Homo sapiens: one gene and its partner. The gene in region 1 interacts genetically with each later gene. Each region holds a gene or a part of one and is shown in the gene's direction. Other genes may lie near its edges.

Evidence for each region.
Region 2: changes in UBE2N (region 1) and FEN1 are lethal when combined (synthetic lethality), as found in Homo sapiens cells (one study listed by BioGRID).

What each region holds. Positions count from the first base shown.
Region 1 is NC_000012.12:93,403,838-93,412,339, reverse strand, and holds the end of UBE2N (ubiquitin-conjugating enzyme E2 N), read left to right. Parts: intron 1-1,040; coding exon 1,041-1,287; intron 1,288-1,465; coding exon 1,466-1,606; intron 1,607-2,260; coding exon 2,261-2,301; 3' UTR 2,302-6,656; downstream 6,657-8,502. UniProt on the Homo sapiens protein: The UBE2V1-UBE2N and UBE2V2-UBE2N heterodimers catalyze the synthesis of non-canonical 'Lys-63'-linked polyubiquitin chains. This type of polyubiquitination does not lead to protein degradation by the proteasome.
Region 2 is NC_000011.10:61,788,514-61,798,648, forward strand, and holds FEN1 (flap endonuclease 1), read left to right. Parts: upstream 1-4,397; 5' UTR 4,398-4,515; intron 4,516-6,827; 5' UTR 6,828-6,848; coding exon 6,849-7,991; 3' UTR 7,992-8,725; downstream 8,726-10,135. Other genes in the region: dolichyl-diphosphooligosaccharide--protein glycosyltransferase subunit TMEM258, read right to left, coding at 1,282-1,408, 1,980-2,089, 4,043-4,045. UniProt on the Homo sapiens protein: Structure-specific nuclease with 5'-flap endonuclease and 5'-3' exonuclease activities involved in DNA replication and repair.

The sequences.
Region 1 (8,502 bases):
TACAGTGGGAACTGATGGAAGTATCTAACTTGTCATGAAATAGGAAGCAGGACATCAGCCACAAGTGAGGATGGGGATGGAGATGCTGGAGGTTTGAAGAGAGAAGAGAAATAATAATAATACAATTATTTAGGGGAGAGGGAGAATGATGAAAAAGAGAACTAATGGTATGATTGTTGGGAGTATTAAGGGTTCCTCTGAAGTTAATTGTCAATTTTAGAGTAATCAGCATTGTTAAATATATTTCTTTAGTCCTGTTCAGGTACCTGGGCCTCTTCTTATCTCCTTTCTTTAGTCCGTTACATTTTTCAGAGGGGAGGTTTTCAGTGGGTTTAAAAACTAATTTTTGGCCGAGTGTGTTGGCCCATACCTGTAATCTCAGCACTTTGGGAAGCCAAGGCGAGCAAATCACTTGAGGCCAGGAGTTCAAGACCAGCCTGGCCAACAGGGTGATACCGTCTCTACTAAAAATACAAAAATTAGCTAGGTGTGGTGGCGCACACCTGTAATCCCAGCTACTCAGGAGGCCGAGTTGGGAGGATCACCTGGGCCCAGGGAGGTCGAGGCTGCAGTGAGCCAAGATCTTGCCACTGCACTCCAGCGTGAGTGACAAAGTGAGATCTTGTCTCAAAAACAAACAAACAAGCCAAAAAAAACCACCAAAAAAGCTAATTTTACTTTTTAAATAGCTTGGTTTTGGTTGAGTTTAGAGCAAGTTGCCTTACTTATGTAATCCTAATGTTACTTTATTTTACTTGAGTAAAAAATCAGTTTTATTAAGCTAATTTTATTAACATATTTGTAGACATTTGTAGCCAAAATGTATGATAACATCATTAGTATTCGCTTGCAGTTTCATTCAGCTGGTTGTAATTATTTAAATGGTATTTTTTTGAATTTTGCATTTTATAAGCTAAATCTGTTGGGAGATTGGAGCTGTTCTATTATGCGTAGTTCTAAGAGATGAACTTTCTAATTTTACTTTTGGTGTCTAGCAAAATGACATTTGTTTCACAAATGTGTTTGTTTTTCTGTCATAGGAAACCCAGCGTTTGCTGGCAGAACCAGTTCCTGGCATCAAAGCCGAACCAGATGAGAGCAACGCCCGTTATTTTCATGTGGTCATTGCTGGCCCTCAGGATTCCCCCTTTGAGGGAGGGACTTTTAAACTTGAACTATTCCTTCCAGAAGAATACCCAATGGCAGCCCCTAAAGTACGTTTCATGACCAAAATTTATCATCCTAATGTAGACAAGTTGGGAAGAATATGTTTAGATATTTTGAAAGGTAAGTGTTATCTTTATCAGCATATGCTATTATTAAGCTTTCTCCTTTTTCTCTTAAGCATTCCATGTTTAGAATGTAAACATTATACAAAGATCAGAGAGGTCTGTGGGAGGGAAGTGAAGCAGTTCTGGGCCTGTTTTTTTCATGCTTTATCATACTGGGCCTGTTGCCTTCATAGATAAGTGGTCCCCAGCACTGCAGATCCGCACAGTTCTGCTATCGATCCAGGCCTTGTTAAGTGCTCCCAATCCAGATGATCCATTAGCAAATGATGTAGCGGAGCAGTGGAAGACCAACGAAGCCCAAGCCATAGAAACAGGTATCTAATATTCATTCTCCTTCACACCACTTCCACTTTTACAAATTTGTATTACCACTTAAACTTTTCTAAAGCTCTTGGCAAGGAAAAGAAATAGAAAAAAGTATAATAAGTGAGATCCTGCTTATAGTATGTAAATACGTCTTAACAAAATGGCTTGCTATGGGACCCCCCAAATATAAAGACAACCTGTAATTGAAAGATCTTGGAGTCTCTTGTAACTACACCTGGTTTAACAAATACTGAGTGCATACCATTTATCTAGTTATATGTAAAGAATACTGGAAAACTTGAACTGTTTTTGTAACCCATTTGATTAAAGTATTCAGCTGTTTATGGCTACGGAATTTGGAGTCAAGAAGCTTCTGCTACAGATTTTAAGAAAATTAGTGGGGAGAATTGTGTATCTAGAAATGGACAACTTGATTCATCCTCTTGAATTTTCTAGAACTTCTTAATTTTATTGTAGTGTTTTGGTAATTGGACATTTACAAAATCTTTCAGCCCTGATCCAATTTATAGAAAAAGGCGTGAATTTAACAGATTACAGCATGACATTTCCATAATTAATAGTGGTTGTTTGCCATTTATAGTTTGGAAAGTAACATATTGAACTAAGTAAAATAATAATCGTATGTTTGTTTCTGTCTACAGCTAGAGCATGGACTAGGCTATATGCCATGAATAATATTTAAATTGATACGATCATCAAGTGTGCATCACTTCTCCTGTTCTGCCAAGACTTCCTCCTCTTTGTTTGCATTTAATGGACACAGTCTTAGAAACATTACAGAATAAAAAAGCCCAGACATCTTCAGTCCTTTGGTGATTAAATGCACATTAGCAAATCTATGTCTTGTCCTGATTCACTGTCATAAAGCATGAGCAGAGGCTAGAAGTATCATCTGGATTGTTGTGAAACGTTTAAAAGCAGTGGCCCCTCCCTGCTTTTATTCATTTCCCCCATCCTGGTTTAAGTATAAAGCACTGTGAATGAAGGTAGTTGTCAGGTTAGCTGCAGGGGTGTGGGTGTTTTTATTTTATTTTATTTTATTTTATTTTTGAGGGGGGAGGTAGTTTAATTTTATGGGCTCCTTTCCCCCTTTTTTGGTGATCTAATTGCATTGGTTAAAAGCAGCTAACCAGGTCTTTAGAATATGCTCTAGCCAAGTCTAACTTTATTTAGACGCTGTAGATGGACAAGCTTGATTGTTGGAACCAAAATGGGAACATTAAACAAACATCACAGCCCTCACTAATAACATTGCTGTCAAGTGTAGATTCCCCCCTTCAAAAAAAGCTTGTGACCATTTTGTATGGCTTGTCTGGAAACTTCTGTAAATCTTATGTTTTAGTAAAATATTTTTTGTTATTCTACTTTGCCTTTGTACAGTTTATTTTACTGTGTTTATTTCATTTTCCCAATTTGACAATCGTATTTTAAAATTGAAACTGATGGAACATTCTTTCTTGGTCTTCACCATCTGACAAATTGAATGGCAAGAGGTGGATTTTGCCAGTTTCTTTTCACTGATGCAGATTTGTGTTAAGATAGTACTGAATGGAGTATTTATAAACTGGCCCTGAGCATGCATAAAGCATCAGTATCTGACCTTTTTTTAACCTTCTAGGAATTTGAAATAAATGTGTTTGTGTTGTCTGATTAGATGATCATTGGTGTCTTGCCACAATGTTTAAAAATTACTGTACAGGAAAGTCACAGCAAAGATAGCAGTTGTGACTGACATGTAGGACTTTCACAGTTGTGCCACATTTTTGCCTAAAATTTGGGTTATGACATTTTTCTTGGTTCTTATCTGAAAATTTCATCTGTAACCTTTCATGTGTGTTAAGAAACACTGATCTGATCATTTGGGATTTGCTGAGGCATTTGTGAGTCTTCCTTATAAACCTGATGAGCAGATCTCAACTATCTAGCTTGTGTGTCATCAGAAAGGTTTATCCCTTTGAGAGTATCAAGTCCTCAGTTAATGATTCTTGCTTTCATCCCTCCAGTATTTGCTGTGGGAGCTCGTTTTATTCTTTAATTTGGAATTCAGTAATTTTTCTTCTTTATTGACGAATTCCTCCCCTCACAAAACTGTTCTTTCCCACCTCTCTCCATATCTAATTCCTGATTCTTGTTATTTTTAAGTCATAAATGTAGCCAGTCATAAATACATAAATGTTAACCTTCGGGTTGCAACCTTGTCTCTTGCAGTTTAAGGTAATGGATATTGTAGCCCATTTGAATTTTCTTCACTCTTATTCTCGTAATTCTGGAGTTTCTTCAGATTGTGGTGTATTTTATTGTGCTCCTATGTAAGATGAAGAATTAACTATTAAAATTACATTTTCAACATACAAAAGCTTTTGATGACTGGTAACTGGTATCCTTCCAAATAAATGCATTGCTTGGTAACAAATGTTAGCTTAATTCAGAATGAAATAGTTAACAACCCTAATATTGTAAAATTTGAAAACTGATAGCAGCTGTCATTTATAACAATTCTTGGGCTGTTTAAAGGGTACATTTGACTATAGCTAAGGAAATTGAATCTCACTTTAAAAATGAACCACACAAAACTTCAAGAAACGAAATAGAAATCAACATTTACTGCCCGTAATATTGCTCATGGTTATAGCTAGTATCACATAGTGATTTACAAACCATGAAATTCCAGATTTAAATCTGTTGCACTACAAAAATGTCTAAATGATGTCTGCTAAATTTGTGAGTTATAGAAGTACAGAAATAAGTCATTTTCATTTCAAATGCAGTGAATTTCTAATTTCATGGTATCATATTTTTTTCCTTTGCAGTTTTGGTAAGACTCCCCCATTACTTTGCTAAGACTTGCTTTCTCAACCAGTGGGATGAAACGAGTGCCAGTGTGTTGACTGAGCCTTCTTAGGACTTAAGGGGCTCTGGGAGAGGCCAAGGCAGCAGTTGAAAACTGCAGCTTCACCTGGCCTTTGGGCCTGTTTTCCCTGGCCCACACAGTGTGGCTGGTTAAAACATTCTGAATTTGATGCCAACATTTTTAAAAATTGGGAGATTTGCATGAAAATCCAGAATTCGGGTAACTTTTGAATGATCTGAAGATCTGGCAACAGTAGACCTGACCCACCTTTGTGCACGGGACTTAACTGAGAGGATCTGAGTAGCAGACACCCTAAGAGCATGTCATTGTCTTCTCACCAGTTACTCTCCAGTTGGCTAGAGTCCCCTCCGAGCACACCTGCTAGTCCTTCCCCCTTGTAAGCCTTTGACTTTGTAATCCCTGGGCTAAAGGAAACACATTATTCAACAAAAGTGTTTCATGTTTGCCCACTAGTTGTTGGGGATGATTAGGTGGTGAGTGAATGGCATGGGGCTTTCCTTTGGGGACCATATACTCTAATGGGGAAGGGGGACAGACAAATAGTTGTAACTCTGTCATGGAAAAGAGAAGTAACTTGGACAGACTTTTGGATTCAGGCCAGATGAACATCTCCAGGCAGAGGGAACAGCAGCATCTGCAAAGTCCTGGGAGAGAAGAAAAGAATCTGAACATTAAGTGGCTTCCTGAAAATCGACTGCCCAGGCCGGGCACAGTGGCTCATGCCTGTAATCCCAGCACTTTAGGAGGCCAAGGCAGGAGGATCACTTGAGTCCAGGAGTTTGTGACCAGCCTGGCTAACATAGTGGGACCCAGTCTTTATTTAAAAGAAAATTGCCCGTTAAGAGGCTTTTCTAAAATCTTGAGGTGTTGATAGGAGCTTTATGTTTTTTGACTTGATTGTTGTAGTCTACTTCGCTGCGATTTGCTTCTGCTCTAGTTATCCTTCATCCTCTCAAAGGCTGTCTAGCAAGATCTTAGGTCTAAAGTAAAGTCATCTCTTGGTATTTGTCGGGAACTGGTTCTAGGACTTCCTTTGGATATCCAAATTCGCAGATGCTCAAGTCTCTGGAATAAAATGATGTTGTATATGCATACAATCTACACAAATCCTCCCGCTTATGTTAATATTTAGATTACTTATAATACCTATTATAATGTAAGTGCTATGTAAATAGTTACACTATTGTTTAAGGAATAATGACAAAAATATACATGTTGACTACAGACACAATGTTTTTTGGAATATTTTGTCTGGTTGTTTGAATCCACGGAAGTGGAACCCATGGATATGGAGGGCCAACTATATAGAACCTTACTCTAGACCAAGAATGTACTTGTAAAACAATTTCAAAGAAGCACTTAAAAATAAGATTAAATACAAACCAACAGATAAAAGTCACAGGTGCTATGGTTGTTTGATGGAGAATGGGGAAGGAAATCTGTCCTAAAAGACATTATAAACACAGTGACCTAAGTGGAACTAAATTGGATCGAGGAAATGATAGGAATAGGCCTCATTTTTCTGTTGAATGGTTCAGGAACCTTTTTTTTTTTTTTTTTTTTTTTTTTTTTTGGCTGCTCTAGCCACTTTCTAGCTCTGTAGTTTAGGCTGGAGTGCTGTGGCATGATCTTGGCTCACTGCAGGTTCTGCCTCCCGCGTTCAAGCGATTCTCCTGCCTCAGCCTCCTGAGGAGCTGGGACTACAGACACCTGCCACCACACCTGGCTAATTTTTTGTATTTTTAGTAGAGACGGGGTTTCACCATGTTGGGCCAGGATGGTCTCCATCTCCTGACCTCGTGATCTGCCCGCCTCGGCCTCCCAAAGTGCTGGGATTACAGGCGTGAGCCACCGTGCCCAGCCCTGCCACATCTTTTTTGTTAGTTGCAGTAGCAATACAACCTTATCTAGAAAAGCTGGCCAAAAAAGAAAATACCATGATAATAGGGTACCTAATTTATTGCTTTATTTAAGAAAAATGTAATATTTCATTCGAATAAGTACTTTTGGGCTGGGATGATATTTCATTTAGCTACTTGGCATGCCACCCATCTTAGGGAATTATATGAGGGTTTATACTTTAAATAACATAAAAAGCAAAACATGCTGAATGTAATAATTTGAGAGAAGTGTAAATAATAAAAATCTGTCATCTACCACCTGGACTAGTAATATATTGTTTGTTTTCTTAACTATACACTCACCCCTGCACTCATCTCCATTTTATCGTGGAAGTCAGGTATATTCCAAGAGTTGGCTTTATGGTACTAACTTGCCATTAGCTGCCATGCTGGGAGCTGGACTAAAATTTTTCCTCTTGTGTGGAATCCAATATTAAGAGTTCGGGTCTCCCCGGCCCTCTCCCAGTTTCATCTTGTCACCCTTGAGCTGATCTCATTTCATGTGTCTTGTATGGCCCTGCTGGGTGGCACTGGTAAGTGTATGAACATAGACTTGATACCAACCTCTGTCTCTACTACTGAATTGATCACATGATTTTTCTTTCTCAGTTTTATTTTTAAAGACTCCTGATCCATCTTACCATATGACTGCTTTTGAAATAGTTCCATGATGTAGATTAGTAAATATCGATAGTTCTTAAGTTTTATTATAACCTAGTAAGTTTACAAAGTCTCCTGGCTTAAGGTCGGGAGTAGATATCAGATCTGGCAAAAGCAGCTTAGATGTGATAGGCTGATTGCACTAGATTGAACTTGGTGCTGTTTCTCTTAGGTTTTAACAGGACACATCAGGACTGAGCAACCAAGTAAGTCCAAGTTATTACAATTCATGTTGTTTTTTTCTCCTAAAACAGTAAATATTTCGGCCTTTGTGGACCATAGGTCTGTCTCAACTACTGAATTCTGCCATTGTAGTGAGAAAGCACCCACAGACGATTTGTAAACAAATGGGCATAGTATTTTTTTTAAAAAAAAAAAAACCTAAAACATTAAAAAAATTTTAAACTTGTTGGCCGTACAAACAGGCAGTGGGGTGGGGTTTGGCCTGTAGGTTGTAGTTCTCTGCCCTGCTCATGTCTATTTCCCAAAACATTTTTTAAACCATACAGGCGTTTAAAAACAAAATCTACAATCTGTACAACCTCATTTTAAGTGACTAAGCTTTTTCAGTGTATGCCAATACATGCATAAAACAGGTAGTTCTGTCTAGTAGTGTTCTGCCTTTTTCAATCACTATTGAAAGGACTCCCTGTGGCAGCACATAGCTCTTTGGTAACCACAAAGTATCCAGTAAATAGATTGCCATGACTTAATCACATTTGAATATTAAATTGGTACCAGTTTCATAAATCCTACAACACACATATTTGACCATAGCTTGGTTGTGCAACTTGTCCATTTGTTGACTAGACTCCCAGGAGTGGAACTGTTGGGTGAAAGGGTATGTATGCAGCTGTGATAAAATACTACTCAGTAGCTCTCCGACAGGCTGTATCAGTTTCCACTCAGATCCTTACGCAAATGTCATTTCTAATGACTGTAATATTACACCATATGGATATATTGCAAGTTAACCATTACAAATCCTTTGCTGCTGAGCATTTTATTTTAATGGCTTTTCACTCTAGTGCCTTGTCTTGGTATATGTCTTTGTCCACATTCCCGTAGATACGTTGAATTCCTAGTATATTTACTTCGTCAATAGGCATGTTTCTTAAGGTTGATAAATAATGATGGCCAAATGAAAGTACTTCACTAACATGAATTTGAGGAAAAGTTGAGAAAAGCAGGAAAATTTACTTCCATTGTCTGATACTGATTAGCATCAGGAGAGTGGGAGTCTACATATTGGGAGATGTTTGTCAAATGTTACAAAAATGCATTAAGAGTAATACCGGGTTATCAGAATTTGCTGAAATCATATCAAGGTGGAAGAATTAGAGAATAGTTCCCTGGCTAGAAGACGTTGAACCTTTGAGTGTTTAGGTCTTTGCTATAATGTCTTGCTTGCTAAGATAGGCCTTAATGGCCCTCTCATCGTACTGCTAGA
Region 2 (10,135 bases), on another chromosome or scaffold:
TCTGAGCTTGCCTCCTTGTCTCTTCTTGGGATTGGTCTGGTGGGAGAGGAGTCACCTATAAGGCTAGGGCCAATTGGAATTCAAAGTTCTTCCTGAGAAGCCTGGAATCTCTGAGCGCCTGAACCAGAGGGCCAAATGGATGCTTCATACCCCTTATCCTCTTAGCTTCATATTGGGGCTAGGAGTGGACTCATCAGCCTCTCCCATGGCCACACCTTCCCCTCCTGCGCACCCGCTGCTGCCCACCTGCATTAAAAGTAGCCACTGAGGAGAAAAGCCTTCTTAGGGGGAGAAGCTGAGCCTGGTGAGGATGCCCCAGCACAGAGAATGGTGGCTATGTTTATGGCAGGGACTGGCCTAGGGCAGAATGGACCGATGTGGGTTCCCAGAGAAGTTTGTCCTAGAAACAATAGAAAAGGGTAGGCCCAGACCCTATCCACAGGTAAGCCTTAAATTCCAATGACAAAACACCGGTGCTACACAAATCTCATCCCCCTTAAGTAGATCAGCAGCAGGAACTGTGAAAGGCAGATGAGAAATGGGAAAGGGAAGAGATTGGGGAAGCAATGTAGGTCCCAGCACCCACCACCCCTGCAGAATGGGCCCCAGACAGGACTGCTATACATCTGCATTTATTATGAGCAGCAGGTGGGACACTTCCAGCAACAGTAAAAAAAAGTAATTTACAAAAGCAGGTTTCAGTGAAGCCATCTGGTTGTTACCTAAAAGAGGAGAGGGGTATCAAAATAAGACCAATGGCCCTTCTTTCCTCCTTCTCTCCCTGCACCCCTGTGCTCCTGGGGCAAGGGCTATTGAGCACACACCTCTGAGGATGAGCCACCAGAGCTGATTCCTAGTGGCCTGTTTGGTGGATTGTCTGCAGCAAGTTTTAAGCCCTGGATCTTGACCCCCTTTCAGCCAGCTGACTTCCCAGCAGCCTCTCCAAGTCACTGGGGTCTGACTTCTAAGAATGTAAATGTACAGCCATGGGATGCCTGCGTCCACACTTCTAGGTGGTACATCCCAAAGGCAGATCGAGGCCTTGGGCCATGTGAGCTCAGAACTGAGAGTCACATTTGGCTCAAATCCGTATGAGGGGCAGGGAAAGAGGCACAAATGTCTAGTGTCCCTACCCATTCCACTGAGTCTGTCTCCATCAACCAAGGGGTCATGCTGGTAAGAGCTTTAAGGACCCTGCTGACCTGACTCTGGGGAGGCTTCCCTGGGCTGTGCCTTGGAGGCTCACGCATCCATCCCATTGCAGCTCTTACCCTTGGGTGCTCACACGTAGATGCCAACCCAGAGCAGCAGGAAGAGGACTCCAAAGCCCATGAAGAGTGAGGCCACTAAGGAGATGAGGAGCTCTTTATAGATATCACGAGTGTACTTGGTAGAGGTGACCTCGTAACTGGGCACAGCAGTTAAGGCAAAGCGAAGGGGTGGACTGTGGAGTGCAGAGAGCCCAGCCCACGGCAATCTGAGGAGAAAAGCATTGGCTCAATGCCTTCTGGGAGGCCTATCTGGCTCAGAGCAGCCAGGCAGAGGGGCCTAAGAGATGCCTTGGACTCTGGTGCTCCACTGCCATGAAGAAAATGAGACCCAGAGGAGTTAGGTCACTTGCCCCAGGTCACACAGCTCATGAGGGCCGGAGCTGGGACTAGCCCTCAGACCTCCTGACACCTGAGTGCACCCTTCCTTATACCACCTTTCCAACTGTAGCACCCCTATTCCCCACCTCCACTCCAGCCAGGTCCCCTGCTCACTGTCCTGGAAATCCAAAGAACAAACTGAGCTCACCTGAACTTGGGAAATAAGGCTATAACCTGCCCCTGGGCATCACTAGCCCTCCTCTCCTCCTTACCTTCTCTCAGCCCCAATCCAATGTACAAAACCGGCGGGGTCCATGTACCTAGCGTGGTTTCTCCCTGAGCTTCCCACATCACTAATGCTGGTCCTCTGGCTGCTCAGTGAAAGGATACACGAAGAACCAGGCGGTGAAGAACATGCCAATGGCCAAAAGCACCACGGTCAGATGGGGGAAGACAGCTGGGTTCACTGGGCTGGTATATCTGCTCATGGCCTCGAGCTCCTAGAGGAGGGAAAGAGATCAGAGCTATCAAAGAATCCCACGATTTCAGCCTGGAGAGAACATGCGGTTATCAAGGAGCCTGGTGCTGCCGTGAAACAGAGGCTGATTTTAGCCCGGAAATGTAGCTGCAGATCAATGGCCCTTATTAGCATTTTCTGAGGCCAATAATCTGACCACTATGAAAACGTGACTAAAGGTACGAACTCTCTGCCTGAGAAAAACCACATACAAGAAAAAGTTTGCCTACAATTTCCGGAGCTTTGTGGACCAGTGTCTATAGACACCAAGCTGAGAACCCCCGCTATAAGTCACTGACTGGTGGTACCCAGATCTCAATATCTTTTTTTTTTGACGGAGTCTCATTTTTTGGACGGCGTCTCACTCTGTCGCCCGGGCTGGAGGGCAGTGGCACGATCTCGGCTCACTGCAACCTCTGCCTCCCGGGTTCTAGAGATTCTCATACCTCAGCCTCTCGAGTAGCTGGGACTATAGGATTACAGGTGCGCACCACCACATCTAATTTTTGTATTTTTAGTAGAGATGGGGTTTTGCCATGCTGGCCAGGATGGTCTTGAATTCCTGACCTCAGGTGATCTGCCTGCCTCGGCCTCCCAAAGTACTGAGATTACAGGTGTGAGTTGCCGCGCCCAGGCTCAATTTTTTTTTTTTTCCAGACAGTCTTGCTCTATCGCCCAGGCTGGAGTGCCTGGAGTGCAGTGGTGCCAACTCGGCTCACTGCAAGCTCCGCCTTCTGGGTTCAAGTGATTATCCTGCCTCAGCCTCCCGAGCAGCTGGGATTACAGGCGTGAACCACCATGCCCGGCTAATTTTTTGTATTTTTAGGAGAGACAGGGTTTCACCTTGCTGGCCAGGCTGGTCTTGAACTTCTGACCTCCTGATCCGCTCGCCTCAGCCTCCCAAAGTGCTGGGATTACAGGAGTGAACCACCGCGCCTGGCCCTCAATTTCTAATTCAGTATTTTCCTCACTACCTATGCTATTATGGAATCTTGTGAGCTATGGTCAAGACATTCAAGTTCTGGTTCTGAGTAATCTGAGTCTGAGTAAAGCGACTGTAATATCTATTTCACAGAACTGAAAAATAAGAAAGATGATGAATCAAAGCATCTAGTGCCTAGCAGGGAGTATTTTGCTCAACAGGTATTTGCTTCCTTCCTAAGGCTGTAGGGAAGATGATGAGATAATGTCTTTTATGAAAGAGGGCTGTAAACGTAAAGATCTGTACAAATGTTAACTTCATTGTCACCGGTCAGCCAATGCTTCTAAAATCCAGAACATAACAACTCTAGAGAAGTAAACTGCCCCCATTGTTCTGAGACACTGGAATTCAATTCAGTAAACAATCACGGCCCCCTTCCCCCAAAATGATAAAGACAATCACTGCCATTTATTGAGCTTCCAATTACGGGCCCTCTGTTTGGCACTGAGAATACAAAGATGAATAGACATCATCCCAGAGCTAGATGCGCGTCAGACGGTGGTCACTAGGAGGCGTGGCCGAAAACAAAGAAGTCCATGGAACGTGGCCAGAGATCTGTACAGAGGCTGTGGGCGCTCCTAGGAAAGTCTGGCCAAGTGCCTGAGAGTTGGAAGTGCTTCACCAATAAACATTTGCCCAGGGCATTGTAGGATGGGCACGGGTTCGGCAGAAGAACTTTCCAAATAAAGATAACACACCACCGATAACAGAGATATACAAACTGGAAGGTATTCAAAATTCGCCCCACGCCTCTCGCCCTTAGAAATCGCGAGCTGAGAAACCTAAGGAGTTCATGGCAAGGGGCTTCCCCCTTCCCCACCCTTCAGCCCAAGCCGGAGGTTCCAGGAGCGTCTAGCCCTCTGGATCTCCGGCGTCTGAGGAGATAAGCGCGGTGTGGGTCAGACCCCGAGGGGTCCTCGCATCTCCGTCTGGAACTCCCCTCAACGCTCTCACCATTTTGCCCCGCGAAGGCTAATCCGCCGCTCCGCCACCGGAAGAACACGTCGGCAGGAGCAGGCGCCTAGCACAACCGGAAAAGGAAGTGCCTCCGGCGCAAGTGGCATTGAGGGACTTGTAGTCCTGCGATTTCGGGTGTAGAGGGAGCAGGGGCCTGCGGGGACCTGGTGTGGGTGGAGTGGGGACAAGCGGTGGAGAAGGGTACGCCAGGGTCGCTGAGAGACTCTGTTCTCCCTGGAGGGACTGGTTGCCATGAGAGCAGCCGTCTGAGGGGACGCAGCCTGCACTACGCGCCCCAAGAGGCTGTGCGTGGCGAGCAGGTCACGTGACGGGAGCGCGGGCTTTGGAAGGCGGCTGAACGTCAGGCCACCCGCCGCTAAGCTGAGAAGGGAGAGCGAGCTTAGGACCGCCTGCCCGGGGCAACCCCGAACCAAGCTTTAGCCGCCGAGGCCGCGTGTCCCAAAGGCCAGGTGAGACCCCATGGGAAGCGCCTCCGGGAGCGACGGGGTCCGCTTGGCGCTGGGGGCCGTGGGGAGCCGGGGTCTGGAGTGCGCGGGATTCGCAGTCAAGAGGTCCCGCCACTTTTCCCCCTGTGAGCCTTGGGCCAGTCGCGTAAGCTCCGAGCCTCTCTTTCCTCCATTGTAGAAAAGCGGTAATAAGTTCCACCTTATGGGGTCGTGTTGTATTTTTCCTAAGACCTTGGACGAGAAACATTTCTGACACTTGAGTTGTTTAGGCCCCTTTCCTGCCTACCTGTCTGTGGGACGCCGTGAGGGGATCAAGGGCTACATGGTCTGGTCCTCAGTCCACACTCCAGCAGCGCGGCCGGCTTGAGGCAAGAGCCGAAGGGTTGAACAGGCCTGGAGAGGGGACATTAGAGGTTTCTGTCTGTTGTCTCAGTTAACCCTGGCAGCAGCCCTGAGAGACAGGCATGGTAATCGTTCTTCTTCTGTAGACGAGAAAATAAACCTCAGTGGCTTGGTAATGTCACACGGATGGTAAATGCCGCGCCTAGATTCAAGGCCAGAGCTTTTGCCGCTGCAGTTCACAGGGGAATTATTCATATTAATCAAATGAATAATTCATTGTCAATTAATTATTAATTGATTAATAATCCAGGGATGGACCTGGAAGGACGCGTGAGAGGATGGCGAGAGGAGGGCACAGCTAAGGAAAAGTGGGAAAAGGCGGGCCTTATTCCAGCTTTCTGTTGAGATCCCAGAATGTAGGGTTAGGTTGGGAACCAGAACATGAAAGATCGTGATGCCATGCTGAAGTGTTTGGACTGAATTAGAAGGAAGAATTGAACAGTCATTGATGCTCTAGAAAGAACCCTGTGAAGAAAGAGTGGGAACAATGAAAAGGCCTGATGGAGTCTTTCGTTTCTTCTTTCTCTTTTCTTTTGTCTTCTTTTCTTTTCTTGACAGGGTCTTGCTCTGTTGCCCAGGCTGGAGTGTGGTGGCACAATCATAGCTCACTGTAGCCTGGAACTCCTGGGCTCATGTGATCCTCCCACCACGGCCTCCCAAAGTGCTGGGATTACTGCCCAGAGCCTCTGTGCCTGGCCCCAGTAGAATATTTCTTGGAGTATTGGACACATACCAACAGTGGGCACAAGATGAGTTTTTTATTTTTTTGAGACGGAGTCTCACTCTCTTGCTAGGCTGGAGTGCAGCGGCACAATCTCGGCTCACTGCATTCTCTGCCTCCTGGGTTCAAGCGATTCTCCTGCCTCAGCCTCCCGAGTAGCTGGGATTACAGGTGCACACCACCACACCCAGCTAATTTTTTTTTTTTTTGTATTTTTAGTAGAGACAGGGTTTCACCGTGTTGGCCAGGATGGCAAGATGATTTTAAATTGCACCCCCTAAAAATCCTTTTTAATAGTTATACATTTAATACATATTAAAATATAACTAATAGAACACAAATATTATTGCTTATGAGTTTTCCAGTTTAGTTTTTTAAAAAAAATTCTAAGTGAATGAAAGTACGGGTTTTAGTTGGAAGTAGCAAAAATCGTGAGGGTGATTTGGGAAACACTGCTATCTGGGAAACACTGAACTCTGAAGTGCAATACTCTTTTGAGCCCAGTGACTACAGCATGCCAGACCCCTAAATCAGGACCTGGGGAGGAGCCATGGAGTTAACATTTCAGACTGAGTGGTGGCGAGAAAACGCAAAGGGAAAGACTTGAAACTCTAGCAACATTATAATAAAAGTAGAAACTCTTATGTGCTGAGGCGATGATGAAGAGAGTTTAGAGAAGCTTGTGAGAAAGCCACATCACCTCCATTCAGATATGTTTGCAATCCTTTTTCAAGGCTGCCTTATTAGTCAGGGTTCTCCAGAGACTCAAAACAAATCAGATCTGTTTGTTTAGCTGGTGTATTTGCCTGTCTTTCAGGTCTGCCATTATGGTCCCTGGACTCCTCAAGCCAGGCCAAGCATCCTGGCCTTCTGTGGTCCTTGATGGAGACCTATGTTGCAGGTTTTTTTTGTGTAATAAATAATGCTGCTACCTTAGAATATCAACAGTATCTTATTTCTCTAAGCACGTGGTTCAATTTCTGGTACTCGTTGAGCCTTACTATTGAGTAAATTCTCCTGCTAGACTGAGTTTTTTGAGAATGGGGACCTTGTTCATCTTTTTATCTTTAGCAGTGCTGACATGGTGTCCTTTTTGTTGTGTGGAATTTAGTTGAAGGCATGAAGTTGGTGAGATAACACCAGTTATAACCTTTCTCCTTTCCTCCGTCTCTGACTTGCCTTTCTTTTTTAGTCATCCCTCCTCTGTGTTGCCATGGGAATTCAAGGCCTGGCCAAACTAATTGCTGATGTGGCCCCCAGTGCCATCCGGGAGAATGACATCAAGAGCTACTTTGGCCGTAAGGTGGCCATTGATGCCTCTATGAGCATTTATCAGTTCCTGATTGCTGTTCGCCAGGGTGGGGATGTGCTGCAGAATGAGGAGGGTGAGACCACCAGCCACCTGATGGGCATGTTCTACCGCACCATTCGCATGATGGAGAACGGCATCAAGCCCGTGTATGTCTTTGATGGCAAGCCGCCACAGCTCAAGTCAGGCGAGCTGGCCAAACGCAGTGAGCGGCGGGCTGAGGCAGAGAAGCAGCTGCAGCAGGCTCAGGCTGCTGGGGCCGAGCAGGAGGTGGAAAAATTCACTAAGCGGCTGGTGAAGGTCACTAAGCAGCACAATGATGAGTGCAAACATCTGCTGAGCCTCATGGGCATCCCTTATCTTGATGCACCCAGTGAGGCAGAGGCCAGCTGTGCTGCCCTGGTGAAGGCTGGCAAAGTCTATGCTGCGGCTACCGAGGACATGGACTGCCTCACCTTCGGCAGCCCTGTGCTAATGCGACACCTGACTGCCAGTGAAGCCAAAAAGCTGCCAATCCAGGAATTCCACCTGAGCCGGATTCTGCAGGAGCTGGGCCTGAACCAGGAACAGTTTGTGGATCTGTGCATCCTGCTAGGCAGTGACTACTGTGAGAGTATCCGGGGTATTGGGCCCAAGCGGGCTGTGGACCTCATCCAGAAGCACAAGAGCATCGAGGAGATCGTGCGGCGACTTGACCCCAACAAGTACCCTGTGCCAGAAAATTGGCTCCACAAGGAGGCTCACCAGCTCTTCTTGGAACCTGAGGTGCTGGACCCAGAGTCTGTGGAGCTGAAGTGGAGCGAGCCAAATGAAGAAGAGCTGATCAAGTTCATGTGTGGTGAAAAGCAGTTCTCTGAGGAGCGAATCCGCAGTGGGGTCAAGAGGCTGAGTAAGAGCCGCCAAGGCAGCACCCAGGGCCGCCTGGATGATTTCTTCAAGGTGACCGGCTCACTCTCTTCAGCTAAGCGCAAGGAGCCAGAACCCAAGGGATCCACTAAGAAGAAGGCAAAGACTGGGGCAGCAGGGAAGTTTAAAAGGGGAAAATAAATGTGTTTCCCCATTATACCTCCTTCACCCCAGAATATTTGCCGTCTTGTACCCTTAAGAGCTACAGCTAGAGAAACCTTCACGGGGTGGAGAGAGGATTCTAAGGCTTTTCTAGCGTGACCCTTTTCAGTAGTGCTAGTCCCTTTTTTACTTGATCTTAATGGCAAGAAGGCCACAGAGGTACTTTTCCTTTTTTAGCTCAGGAAAATATGTCAGGCTCAAACCACTTCTCAGGCAGTTTAATGGACACTAAGTCCATTGTTACATGAAAGTGATAGATAGCAACAAGTTTTGGAGAAGAGAGAGGGAGATAAAAGGGGGAGACAAAAGATGTACAGAAATGATTTCCTGGCTGGCCAACTGGTGGCCAGTGGGAGGTGATGGTGGACCTAGACTGTGCTTTTCTGTCTTGTTCAGCCTTGACCCACCTTGAGAGAGAGCCACCAGGAAGGCGCATCTTAGCAGATGGGAGGAACTGCTGAGAGAAGATGGGCAGAAAGCTGGAGCCCCTGGAGTTGGCTGTGTCTGTGTTTGTGACTGATTACTGGCTGTGTCTTGGGTGGGCAGAAACTCGAACTTGCTATGTAATTTGTGTCTAGTTATTCAGAGGAGTAAGATGGTGATGTTCACCTGGCAATCAGCTGAGTTGAGACTTTGGAATAAGACACTGGTTTTCATGCGCTGTTTTTGTTTTAAAGTTATGAAGAAAAAAGTCAATAAAATTCTAAAAGTAACCAAAATGTCATGTTCTTTGAGAACATTTGAAAATATCCCAAGTGACCATGGCTCCAAATAGCTTTCCTTTTCACTCTTAACATGCTGTAATTGCACTTGATTAACAATGGGTGGTTTGAGAGTGGCCACAAGATGGCACCATGCTCCATAAAATGGCCATAGCAGCTAGATGGAACTTCAGCCATTAGGAGGAGGATGTTTTGTTTATTTTATTTTGCTGGGAGAGGAGTTTTAATACGTTGAATAGATTTCTAGTCTCTCACTCCATGAGATCAAAGGAGTGCCTTTAAGAAAGCCTCACAATTTAGATCAACTACCTCATAACATCCAAGCATTTACTTTGCCACTACTTGTAAACTGAAAGCTGCCATTCAGAAACCATTTTCTTGTTCCTTTTGTAACATCAAATCCAAGATACTGTTTCCCATAGAGATGGCATGTTTTTGAGCTTTGAAAGTTTTATAATCCTGATAAAGCTTGGCCCATTTGAATGTCTGACGTTTTAGCATTCCTGTCAGGGCCATTTGAAGTTAACAGGGACACTTATGTAACTGTCCGAAATTTAAGCTGGCAATGTCTTGACAGATTAAACAGGTAGGGAGCCTGAAGACCAGTAGTTTTCAAGTCTTTTAATGGAGAAACCTATTCTTCAAGTGTAATCTTATGTGAAACTTTAGGATGTACAGGTTCCTCTGGTTGAAGCTGGAATGGGATAAAGTTTACCCAGCAACGGCCTCATAACTAGGGTACTTTTTGAAAACTGGTGTTGACAAAAAGTTCTATCCCAAGGGCAGGTAACTTTTGAAACTGATTTTCCCAGATTATACCAAGCCACACAACTTATTTGAGCTCTATTTTCTGATTCAGGTAGATTGCTTCTAAATCTGCAGTAATGGTGATAGGAACTAAAGACGGTAAGATTTCTTTTTTTTTTTTTTTTTTGAGACAGAGTCTCTTGCTCTGTCACCCAGGCTGGAGTTCAGTAGTGCGATCTTGGCTCACTGCAGCCTCAGCCTCCTGGGCTCAAGTGATTCTCCCACCTCAGCCTCCCAAGCAGCTGGGATTACAGGCACAGGCCACCATGCCTGGATGATTTTTCAATTTTTTGTAAAGATGGGATCTCACTGTTGCCCAGGCTGGTCTTAAACTCCTGGGCTCAAGCAATCCTCCCGCCTTGGCCTCCTAAAGGCTAGGATTACGTGTGCCATTCTCTCCCAGTGCTGGGATTACAGGATGAGCCACCTTGCCTGGCGAAATGTTAAGATTTCTTAGGAGTTATTGCCTCAGTGCAGTAGCTCTTAATAATTAAGGGCTTATACCCTGTGGTGGTCAAGAATGTAGTGGTTTTCTTTTGTCTTTTGAAGGTAAGTTTGTCTCCTATAGAATTTTGTTAATCTGACTTTCTGTGT